Homo sapiens: one gene and its partner. The protein of the gene in region 1 purifies or fractionates together with the protein of each later gene. This does not show direct contact. Each region holds a gene or a part of one and is shown on either strand. Other genes may lie near its edges.

Region 1 (4,022 bases):
GTTTCCTCTATTTTCTCCAACTTGTGGGTTTTTGTGTGAATGCATCTGTTGTAGTAGCCATAGGGATGTATCATTCAGATCTCCCTTCAAAAGAATCTGACATGAGGAGTGTAGTTGGTACTTTCAGATCCATCAAGGCATTTGTGCGAAGGCCACGCTCCCCTTGGTCTCCTCCCAGAAACTGACTTGAGGAAGTCAGAGAAACAAAGCCAGGCTATTTCTGCCCAATTCTGAACTCTACTAAAAGGAATCCTTGCTTGGGAACTCTCCATTGGCCTGACCAAGACTTCATCTTAGAGTTGCACTGCAGTCTAAGTTTTTGCTAATCAATCTTCATTTTCTCTTTTTACAGGTGTCAGACCCACACTGCAGTCTGAAGGCTCTCTCGACCTACGCTTGCTCCATCTCCCGTTTATCCTCCATTTATGTTTCCTCTAATAAATTCTTGCACATCTAACTTTGTCATGTCATCTGCTTCTCTGAGGACTCAAATTATCACCTGGGATTTTGGAAAGAAGTTTTATTAGATGTCTAGTCCACTGTCTTAATAAGAAACCACCATGAAGTTTTTATGTTCTTCAAAGTTTACACATTTCAAGTTTCATTTATCTATGGGAGAATGAATTACTTTCAACACATTTATATCTGAGTTTGTTTATTGTTCTGATTTACTGAAACTTAAAATATTCCATCAAATTATCCAGGAAAATCCAGGTGGCAGAAATATATAATATGTCCATTTCATCAAGAGGTCTCAAATAAATTTTAAAAGGCCAGAAAATGATATATATACTATGCCATTTAAATCACTTCTATCTTCTGTACTTAAGAACTCAAGTATAGAAATAAACTGTGGGCTGAAGTAACATTGTAACCTGCTCCCAACATGACTGCATAGGTGTCTAAGGTTAAGTGTGAAGATTACTGTGAGGTCTCAAGTTACTTGACTAATCAATCCCATTTGAATTTCAATCCAAGCAGCATATTTTACACACACCTGAAGGAAATATCTTCAGTGTGTTCATGTGTGTGTCTATGTGCATGTATGTGTAGGGGATAGGTGTAATTAGGGAAGGGCTGACCGAACAACATTGATAAGTACATGCTAGAAGTCTGCTGTTGTTGGTAACACAGAAACATACACAGTCTTCATATTCAAAGTCTTCACGGGGATGTCTTCTGTAATTTCTAGAATGGAAAGAAAAAGTTGAAAAAAAATCAGTATTTTACCTATTGGGGGTGAATATTTAAAAAAATGTTAACTGCTTGTGTAGTAAGGAATTTGGCCTTATCCTAAGAGTTCTGCCTTTTGTCCCAGCTCCTGAGGTGAACCTCTAAATCCTTGGAATTTCCTGGTAGGAATCTTTGTTTCTCATGGTGGGTATGTTCACCAAACCTGACAGTTGTTGCTAATGAGACAATTCAGGGTAGTGCTGGCCAGGACAGAAAGACCAAGTATATGATTTAGGATGGGGACTTTGGGTCACATGGTATATCAGTTGAGAAAGACAGCAATCATGCCTACAGAATGAAACCTCAACAGAAACTGGACACCAAGGCTCGAGTGAGCTTCCCTGGTTGGTAATATAGTCTCTGTGTTGTCAGATGTAAGGGATGAGAGGAAGAAACATTATCCATGACTCCAGGGTCTCTCTCTCTCTCTCACTCTCGCTGGTTCTAACGTGTATCCTTTCCCTACCCTAATTCAAACCATGAGTGTAATACCTTTTAGTGAGTCTGAGTCCTCCTAGCAGGTTACTGAACCTGAGGGTGGTTTAGGAAAATCCCTGGAACTTGCAGTTGGTGCCAGCAGTGATGGGGGTCTTGTGTGGATCTTTCCCTGAGTAGAATCCTCACTCCTTGCAGGTGGAGTTAGATATCGGGCAGACTCCTGGAGCCTTCTGGAGGACTATGCCATCACTTCACAGTTTGGCTAACTCTGGGTACTGCCAAGATGGTTATTTTTCCTCATACACAGATACTTCCTATGTCTACAAAAAAAGCCTAGAGGCTGTGCCAACTCAGTATCCCAGATATGTGGTTTCAAAATATGATTCTCTATAATTTGAAGAACAGCTATTTTCTACGTCTGGAGAAGTAAAAGTACATAATAAGCCTAGGACATGTTGCTACGTGAGAAAGCAAGAATTTACCAAAGACAAAGGATCATGTTAAAGAATACAGGATCCAATATGGCCAATGACGAAAACTCTGAGCATCCAAAAATATAACCCAAATGCAATTGATTGAAATATACTGAATATACAACTCAAAAACAAAAAAAAAGAAAATTTAAAGTTATCTGCCTACTGTGGAGCATTTTGCTTCTAGTCAGATCTGAATTTAAAGCAAACAGATGAGCTTCCTTTAAAAATAGCTCTTGTCCTACCTAGCAGCAATCCTAGATGTGAGAATACTCTCAAAGCTACTTCCTTAATAGATAATTACAGGACCTGGAGATGATGTTTAGAGTTTAGTGGAGCAAGCAAGAAGACATCTAAGGGTTTCTAAAATGGTCAACATTTTGTGGCTCTTCTAATTTACCAAGTTATTGATACTTTATGAAAGACAATTCTGAGAGAAAAGGCATAATGAAAACGAAGCTATAGATACTAGATTGGAAAGATACTGAATTAGAAAAAGTTCCAACTTTGTGGTAATCTTAGATAAATCACTAAACATTTAAAAGTTCTCACCCACTAAACTTTTGCCTAACTAACGTCACAGAGTAAAGAGAATACAGAAAGGCAGCACAGGTTAAGAATGGTTCTGTGAATTGCAGGTAGTATTATAAATACATAATTCATACAGACATGGTTCTACCCCTGACCAGGTTCAATCATGCCACTGCATTTGCTTGCAAGAACAAGTGAGAGATAAATGTCATCTTCAGCTCCACTGCACAACAGTACTTGGTGACCAAAGGATTTGAGGGACAAGAAGAGTTAAGAATTATCTCTAAAGTTTTATATAAGCTTATCAAAATAGAAAGCTACATTATTAGATGATCTTTACTACCATACCACAATGAAAGAGCCAAGTGTGTTCGAGGGAGAGTGAAAAAAGCCTTTGATAGAGTGAAAGACTCATGGACAGAATTAGCAAGACAGGGAAGGCCCAGAGCAGGAAGGATCTTGTGTGGAAGGGAAGATTCTGAGGCATAAGAGAATAAGGAGCTTTGGGGGCTCTAAGCAAGGGAACAAAATCAAGGCAGGAATGTTCATGAAGATAGCTCTGGTGAAGAGTACAGACTGCAGACTGGTGACTTAGATGGATGATGAGGCCCAATGATGAGATGAGAGGGAAAACGACAAAGGAGAGTCACTGAAAATAAACCCAGGGAGGGAAGGAGGAACCCAAGAAGAAATAGAGCTTTAGTATTTAACATCATGACAGAAAATTTAAAAGTACGATATGCAACTAAATTTAAAAAAAAAAGCTGCACAGGAAGAAAACGGGAGAATTACACAGAGGCCAAAAATAATGACTCCCATGGGGTCTGGTGGCTTAATGCTTTTGGCACTAAAGAGCTAGGAAAGCAGGGAAAGAAAAGCCTCCGGTATATACAAACCGGGAAGTCCAACAAATCTCTGCTGAAGAAACTGGAACTTCAAATAAGAAACCCATAGCAAAAGGGTTAATTTGAGTAAGTTCCTTCACCACAAGAGAAAAAGTGAAGAGAATGTAATCGGTTAATAATGGCCTTCCAAAGATATGCCCAGGTTCTAAATTCCCAGGAGCTGTGAATGTTCACTTTATTTGGAAAAAGAGGAAACAGAAGAGAAGGAGGCAATGTGACCACGGAGTCAGAGACTGAAGTGATGTGGCCACAAGTCAAGGGATGCCTGGCGCCACCATAAGCTAGAAGAAGTATATAAGGAATTCTCCCACAGAGCCTTCAGAGAGACTGTGGCCTTTCTGACACCCTAATTTCAGTGTCTGGCCTCCAGAGCTGTGAGATGACTTGAGCCATCCCATTTGTGGAAATTTGTTGCAGCAGCCACAGAAACCAATACAGAGAA
Region 2 (7,630 bases), on another chromosome or scaffold:
TGTGAGTAAGAGTCAAGAGAATTTGAAAGCTGGGTACAGAAGTCTGTATGCTTTACTGAAGCACCAGTTTAATCTGACACTCACTGTGGCCTTGAATGAGTCACCTTTCAGGGCTGAGTTCTCTAATCTGTAAAATGAGAGTGTTATGTTAAATGTTTACTGAGGTTGATTATTCTATCAGCTACTTGTAATTCAGCTGCATCATTTCAGTTAGCTATAAATAAACCCCCTAAGACCCTCAGTGTGAATATGAACAACTATCATTTCATATTATTTCATATATCAAGTATTCTCATTTATAATTGGGTTGAGGTTTATTAAAAAAAAAAAAAAAAGCTTTTTGGCAAAGGGAGGGACTGAAAACAAATTCACCACTGCATGGTGCCCTGCTTGAGCCAATCTGACTGGAGCTTAAGAAACTCCACCCAGTTCTGGCTAACATCAAAGGAGACTCAACACCACTCTGCCAGAAAATAAGCCCTGTATTATCTAACCAGGCACTAAGGGAACACACAGTTTTCAAGCACAGCACTTTGTATATCTGATCTTTCATTCTGATGACATGCCTGAAGTGAAACTATTAGTGAGCCGGGTTTTTTAAAATAGGTAAACTAAGGCAAGAGGCAACTACATGGCATGATGATAAAATACTCTCTTGACTACAATCTCACTATTAAGAGCTAGGTGCTCATAAACAGGAAATAAGGATATATGATGAGGCCACAGTACTTTGTTGTATGCTTTACTTTGGATAGTTCACAAACTCTGGAATTAATTACTGTACTAAAAATATTTTACAGGTCTATACAGATTAAACAGTGTTAATATCTAACTTAATTACACAGAAGTTCTGAAGAACCTTTTAAGCTCCATGAAGTCCTCCTGAAAATTTTAGGTCATTCGCATCTAGAGCCACTCACTCGGGGTCTGTGCTCATTCTGTCTGATGAGAAATTGGCAATCTGGTTTACCAATGGCCTGTTGCTGTCTCTGTCCTCTTCTATTCACCCCTTGAAAGGTGCTACTATGGGAGCTAAAATGCAGGGAAAAAACTCATGAAAAGCTAGAACAGAGCTTGGGCAAAATGGCAAAACCCCATCTCTACAAAAACATGTAAAAATTAGCCAGGCATGGTGGCACATGCCTGTAGTCCCTGCTACTCAGGAGGCTGAGGTGGGAGGACTGATTGAGCCCAGGAGGTTGAGGCTGCAGTGAGCCACTATTGCACCACTGCACTCCGGCGTGGGCAACAGAGTGAAACCCTGACTCAAAAAAAAAAAGCAAGAACAGAAGCCTGATTCCCACCATCATACTCACTTTTCCTAACCACTGTGTTAGGAAACCTTCATTTTACTGTGTCACATTAGCCAAATTTCTACCGACATTCATTTGCAGTAGCCAGCATTCTCTTTTTAAAAGTATAGAATCCTATTTCTTAATTTAAAAGTGGGTAAGAAAATGTACATCCCTGGAAAGACCATTGTTCATCCCAGAGATGGTTCTATTGAAGATGTCTGAGTTCTTGGTTCTGGTGTGAAAAAGGAAGAAAAATATTATGGCAACATGGGAACTTTCAGGGAATAAAGCAGATATAGATATGGTATCAAAGTAGGGAAAGGGTATACAGGCCCAGGAGCCCTAGGAGGCAAAAGAAAGGGAGTTAATACCATGCCAAAGACAAGCTTGCTATCTTTCAAAATATCGCCTCCTGTCAGTTTCAGCAGAAAGAAATAAACTTTCTTCTCAGTGACCTAGGCTACTTTGAGGCAAATCATTTTGAGTTCCAAACAACCCATTTAATAAACTTTAAATAATTATTACTAAAGGTAGGATACTGCTTATAATGCTCACTTATATTTTCTCTATAACTGATAGCCTGTCCTTTTTGGGTGGGTGGGGGCGGGGGCGGTTATGGACAAGACAAGGAACCATAAAGATATCTGGGTTAATGTTTTCTTTTATACGTTTGTTTTTGCATGACATTTAAATGACAGAGAATTCTAAAGCCAACACTAAGCTGCTATCCTAGGACATTAGTGAGAATGCTGTGGCCAAAATATAGTGCTCATTCCTCAGGCTTGAAAGGAACCCCACGTCGCCAGTGTGGGAGATCATTTATAATCTTGATGGATACAGGTATAGCCTGCTTCATAATAATTTAATATTCAACATCAGATTTTTTTTTAGTATGCCTAGCAGGTTTTTAGTTACTAATTAACTTTATTACCCAGATTTGTTTCTTACTGAACTTCTTTCAGAGGCCTGTTATACATCAAGCTGAACTTTGTCTGGCAGCTGTGCTGTTTTTAATTTATTTAACCACAAAACCTTGATTTATACTTTCAAGCAAAATGATATTTTACTTAAAAATAAATCTTTAGCAAGGATGTCTACAGGAATCAACTACCAACTTACACAGTTCACAGACACATATGATTCCTCAGACAAATCTGAATTTCTCCTGCTTCTCCTCCAAACCAGACTTGCAGATAGCAACAGACAACTGAGGAAGATCTTGACTATCCTGAGCAATAAACTACAACCCCCCTGAAGAATATATTAACTGTCCACCCCTAGGTTCCTCCCTACACAGTTCAAGGACAACAGCTGTGCTATTACAAACTGATGGAATTTCCAGGCTTGACAGGGTTCTGTTCGTAACCACCATTTGTCCTGTTCATCATAGGATTAGCAACAGCAGAGAGCCCTTGATTACTAGAATAGCTGAGGCCATCACACAGCTACATTCCTACATGAAAGAACACACTGATATAGGTTTAAAGAAGTTATATTTTACTTTCATGTAGTTACCAGAGTCCCCCCCACCCCCCATTTAAGGGAGCCCTGTTCTCTGGATATAAAAATACTGTATACACTTGCACACACATACTCACATACATAAAACCTTGCATCACAAAGTTAAAAGGCTACCTTGCTTACTTACAGGAACTATCCAGGCAGCTTGTGTTCAGTCCTGACTAAATGCATTTTGGATCAGGCACCTGCCTTCAACATTTCTGTCCAAATGAATTTCAATCTATTTCTCCAGGAAGAACACACCAGATACCTCCCACTGTTAGCCATGTGATACAGGCAGCATGATGTCTGAAGTCTGGTTACGGTTATGTAGGCCAAAATAAGAAATGACAATGACACAGCACTTACATTTCTGATATCACCAACCTTAAGAATGAATCTTCCATTTTATCTAAATTTTTTAAATGAGTAAAACTTTAAAAGATTCTTAATACCTAACCCCTCAAAATTTTGAAAAAGGAGCATTTTTTTTAAACTTTACATTTATCCCACTTCCTTCCTCTAACACAGGAAAACATTCAGAGTTAATCTATACCAATCCAAAAATTATTTCTAACCACATTCTAAAGGCATTTTTTTTTTTTTTGAGACAGGGTCTTGGCCTGTTGCCCAGGCTGGAGAATGCAGTGGCATGATCTCAGCTCACTACAACCTCCGCCTCCTGGGTTCAAGTGATTCTCCTAACTCAGCCTCCTGAGTAGCTGCGATTGCAGGCATGCACACCACCATGCCTGGCTAATTTTTGTATCTTCAGTAGAGACGAGGTTTCATCATGTTGGCCAGACTGGTCTCAAACTCCTGGCCTCAAGTGATCCACCCATCTTGGCCTCCCAAAGTGCTGGGATTACAGGCATGAGCCACCATGCCTGGCTCTAAAGGCTTACACCAGTTGAACTGATCTAGGATCCAATCCCCTCACTTTAATAGATGGAAAAAAAAATGAGAAATGGAAAAAACAAGTCACTTACAAATGAGGCTGAGACAAAGGATCGGCGAAAAGAGCCACAGAACACCAAAAACAGAAGCAGAGCGTGACAAAATAAGCAAAACCTTACAGTTTTGTAGTTTCTGCTTTTATCTAACACAATGACTTCGCTGTACTTCATATACCTTTTGAATTATACCTGCTTATACATACCTTTACCTACCTACTACTTATACCTACCTATCTTTTCTTCTGCAAGGAGGGAGGCAGGCAGGAAGAATCCTGAACATCAGGAAAACATTCCACCTGATCTTTAAAGGGACCCCAATGCCTAGATGTCTTTTTCTTTTTTCTTTTTTTTTTTTTTTGTAAATCCAAACTCTTACGTGTAATATCAAGGCTGACTGACAAGACTCAGTCCTATCACCCACCATAATCATCAGCAGCTTTCCATGTAGGGTCTCCCTACAATTTAGTCACATGGGACCATCTACCATCTTACATTATCACTGTACACCCTATGCTCATTTGCTCTCCAAACTTGAAGTTATCTTCTCTCCCTCCTCATTTGTGAAAGTCTTGAAATCAAGGTCCACATAAATTGTCTTACCACCTTTTCTGTGACTGCTTTTTAGAATCTTTCTCCCAGTAGTATTCAGAACTAATACATCATCTGTACTTGTAACAGTAGAGTCTGATCTATACTGTAGTTCAGTGGTCCCCAAACCTTTTGGCACCAGGGACAGGTTTCGTGGAAAACAATTTTTCCACAGATAGCAGGAGGGGTGAGAGGGAGGAGATGGTTTCGGGATGAAACTCTTCCACCTCCGATCATCAGTCATTAGATTCTCACAGGAGCATGCAACCTAGATCCATCGCATGTGCAGTTCACAATAGGGTTTGCGCTCCTATGATAATCTAAAACCACTGCTGATCTGACAGAAGGCAGAACTCAGGCACACTTATCGCAAAGTTAATGTAATGCTGTTCACCTGCTGCTCACCTCCTGCCGTGCAGCCCAGTTCCTAACTGGCCATGGACTGGTACCAATCTACAGACCGAGGGTTGGGGACCCCCCACTGTAGTTAGTTGTATATACCAGCTCCTGTAAACTGCTGGGTCCCAGAAGAGAGGACCACATCAAAGTGATGTGCACACCTTCTCTGTTCCTAGTAGACTACAGAGGAGACAGGCCAAAATGATAAAAACCAACAAAACAAGGGGCTAAAAACACATTTCTAAAATGACACGATGAAAGTTATTAGAAATTGAATCTAATTTGAAATTAATCAGAAGTTCCAAAATTACAAAAACTCTTCACAACTAGAAAAAGAATAAACAGATTCAAGGCTGAAAGGTTATCACCAATTACAAATATTCACCTTGGCTAGGTGTGGTGGCTCATGCTTGTAATCCCAGCACTCAGCACTTTGGGAGGCTGAGGTGGGTGGATTATGAGGTCAAGAGATTGAGACCATCCTGGCCAACAAGGTGAAACCCCTCTCTACTAAAAATACAAAAATTAGCCGGGCGTGGTGGTGTGCACCTGTAGTCCCAGCTACTCGAGAGGCTGAGGCAGGAGAATCACTTGAACCTGGGAGGTGGAGGTTGCAGTGAGCCAAGATCGTGTCACTGCACTCCAGCCTGGGTGACAGAGTGAGACTCTGTCTCAAAAAAATAAAAATAAAAAAGAATATTCACCTATTTTCTTCCACTTTCTAAACACAGTTTGTACAAGAGCAAGCATGTTGTCTGGAATTATAGAAAGAAAGCCAGTAAGGAGTAACCGTACGAACCAGCTCTCCATGCTGGTCATCTTATCATTATTAGGCATAGCAATAAAAATAGCTCTCTCTGCTTTTAGAAAAGCATGACATGATGCAATGTGGCAAAAACAAATATTCAAGATGGTCGACCAGTTACTGGCCTGGCATGGTGACTCACACCTGTAATCCCAGAACTCTGGGAGGCCAAAGCAGGAAGACCACTTGAGCCCAGGAATTCAAGACTAGCCTGGGCAAGATGGCAAGACACCATCTCTACAAAAAAAAATGTTTTTAATTAGCTGGGCATGGTGGTGTGTGCCTGTAGTGCCAGCCTCTCAGGAGGCTGAGGCAGTAGGATTCCTTGAGCCCAGGAGCTTGAGGATGCAGTGAGCTATGATTACAACACTGTACTCCAGTCTGGGCGAGAAAGTGAGACCACATCTCTGAGGGACAGAGAGAGAAAGAGAGAAAGATATCAGCCACTACCATCATGTTAATATGATCATATAAATATTAAAACTTTATAATTATTAAAATATTAAATCTCTATAGTTATCAGCTCATATATCTGTCAGAAAGTAATAAGCATATCATGTAACTTTAGGATGACTTAGTGCTGAGGAGATTGGAAGAAAGGAAGAATATTCATACTTGATCAGCTCTTAGCTTTTGAGAACTATTTTATTAAAGAAAAAACTCTCTTTTGGCTGGGCATGGTGGTTCATGCCTATAATCCCAACATTCTGGAAGGCTGAGGCAGGAAAACTGCTTGAGCCCAAGAGTACAAGACCAGCCTGGGCAACACAGTTGAGACTGCGTCTCCACAGAAAACATTTTAAAATTAGCCTGCACACCTGTGGTCCCAGCTCTTGGGAGGCTGAGGTGGACGGATCACTTCAGCAGAGGAAGTTCAAGGCTGCAGTGAGCCGTGATAGCACCACTGCACTCCAGCCTGGGCTACAGAGTGAGGCCCTGTCTTGAAAATAATAGATAACAAAAGAAAAACTTCTCCCATTAAGCAAAGTGAAGTTTCACTCTATTTTATATCAGTGAAAATAAAGAAAAGTGGAAGGTAGAAGAGGACATAGGAATTTGTGCTGCCAATTCTATAATTTTTGTTTTGTTTTGTTTTTTGTGGGGTTTTTGAGACGGAGATTTTTGTATTTTTAGTAGAGACAGGGTTTCACCATGTTAGTCAGGCTGGTCTTGAACTCCTGACCTCAAGTGATTCGCCTGCCTCAGCCTCCCAAAGTGTTGGGATTACAGGTGTGAGCCACCATGCCCACCCTTGTAATTGTTTATTTACAATGTGTGTCCCACCCAGAGTTCCCCTTAACGCTTGAGTTCCTCGATGGCTAGGATAGCATCTTTCTCACCTTTTATCCTGGACATCTAAATATAATAAACTTGAAACCTCACAGGCTCTCATTAAATGCACATTTGTCCTGCTAGGTGCGCTCTGCTCCATACCATACCAGCCTTCTCTTGCTGGGGTTGATGTTTGCACAGCTGGAAGCACCCTCATAGTTCTTCTAAGTATTGGTTCTAGGCACGACTAAGGGTAGAGTAGCTCAGCTTTTCTGAGCAAGAAGGAGAAGATACAAACTCTATGGGAGTACTTAACAAGCATTTTGTAGTCGTGGCAAAGGCCTTACTTTGACCTAATATCTTACAGATGCTTTCAAAAAGGAGGGGGGGAATATCATTATTAAATGAAAATTGAACAGCAAAAGTTGAAGAGATCTTTCAAGTTATTAGTAACATAACTTTTAATATTTTACCTGAAATACAAGTAAAAATCTGAATTAAAAGTATTAAAAAAACAAAAAAAACACGCTGGATCAGAATTGTTCAGGGACAGGGTTAAGCAATATGAGTATTATTTGTTGTTGTTGTTTTGTTTTTTTTAGAGACAAGTCACACTATGTTGCCCAGGCTGGAGTGCATTGGCTAGTCACAGGTGTGCTCATTGTACACTACAGCTTCAAGCTCCTGGGCTCAAGCGATCCTCCAGCCTCAACCTCCCAGGTAGCTGAGACTAGAAGCATGTGCTACTGCACCAAAAATCTCAGTGTTGTTGGTTTTCTTGCAGTAAGGGTAATCATGACACAGAGAAATCTCAT

Evidence for each region. The genes of interacting proteins can lie anywhere in the genome.
Region 2: the proteins of IARS1 (region 1) and MAP4 fractionate together in Homo sapiens (co-fractionation; 2 studies listed by BioGRID). This does not show direct contact.

What each region holds. Positions count from the first base shown.
Region 1 is NC_000009.12:92,209,702-92,213,723, forward strand, and holds the end of IARS1 (isoleucine--tRNA ligase, cytoplasmic), read right to left. Parts: intron 1,189-4,022; coding exon 1,106-1,188; 3' UTR 506-1,105; downstream 1-505. UniProt on the Homo sapiens protein: Catalyzes the specific attachment of an amino acid to its cognate tRNA in a 2 step reaction: the amino acid (AA) is first activated by ATP to form AA-AMP and then transferred to the acceptor end of the tRNA.
Region 2 is NC_000003.12:48,013,391-48,021,020, forward strand, and holds the start of MAP4 (microtubule-associated protein 4), read right to left. Parts: upstream 3,027-7,630; 5' UTR 2,944-3,026; exon of another isoform or gene 2,931-2,943; intron 128-2,930; exon of another isoform or gene 85-127; intron 1-84. UniProt on the Homo sapiens protein: Non-neuronal microtubule-associated protein. Promotes microtubule assembly.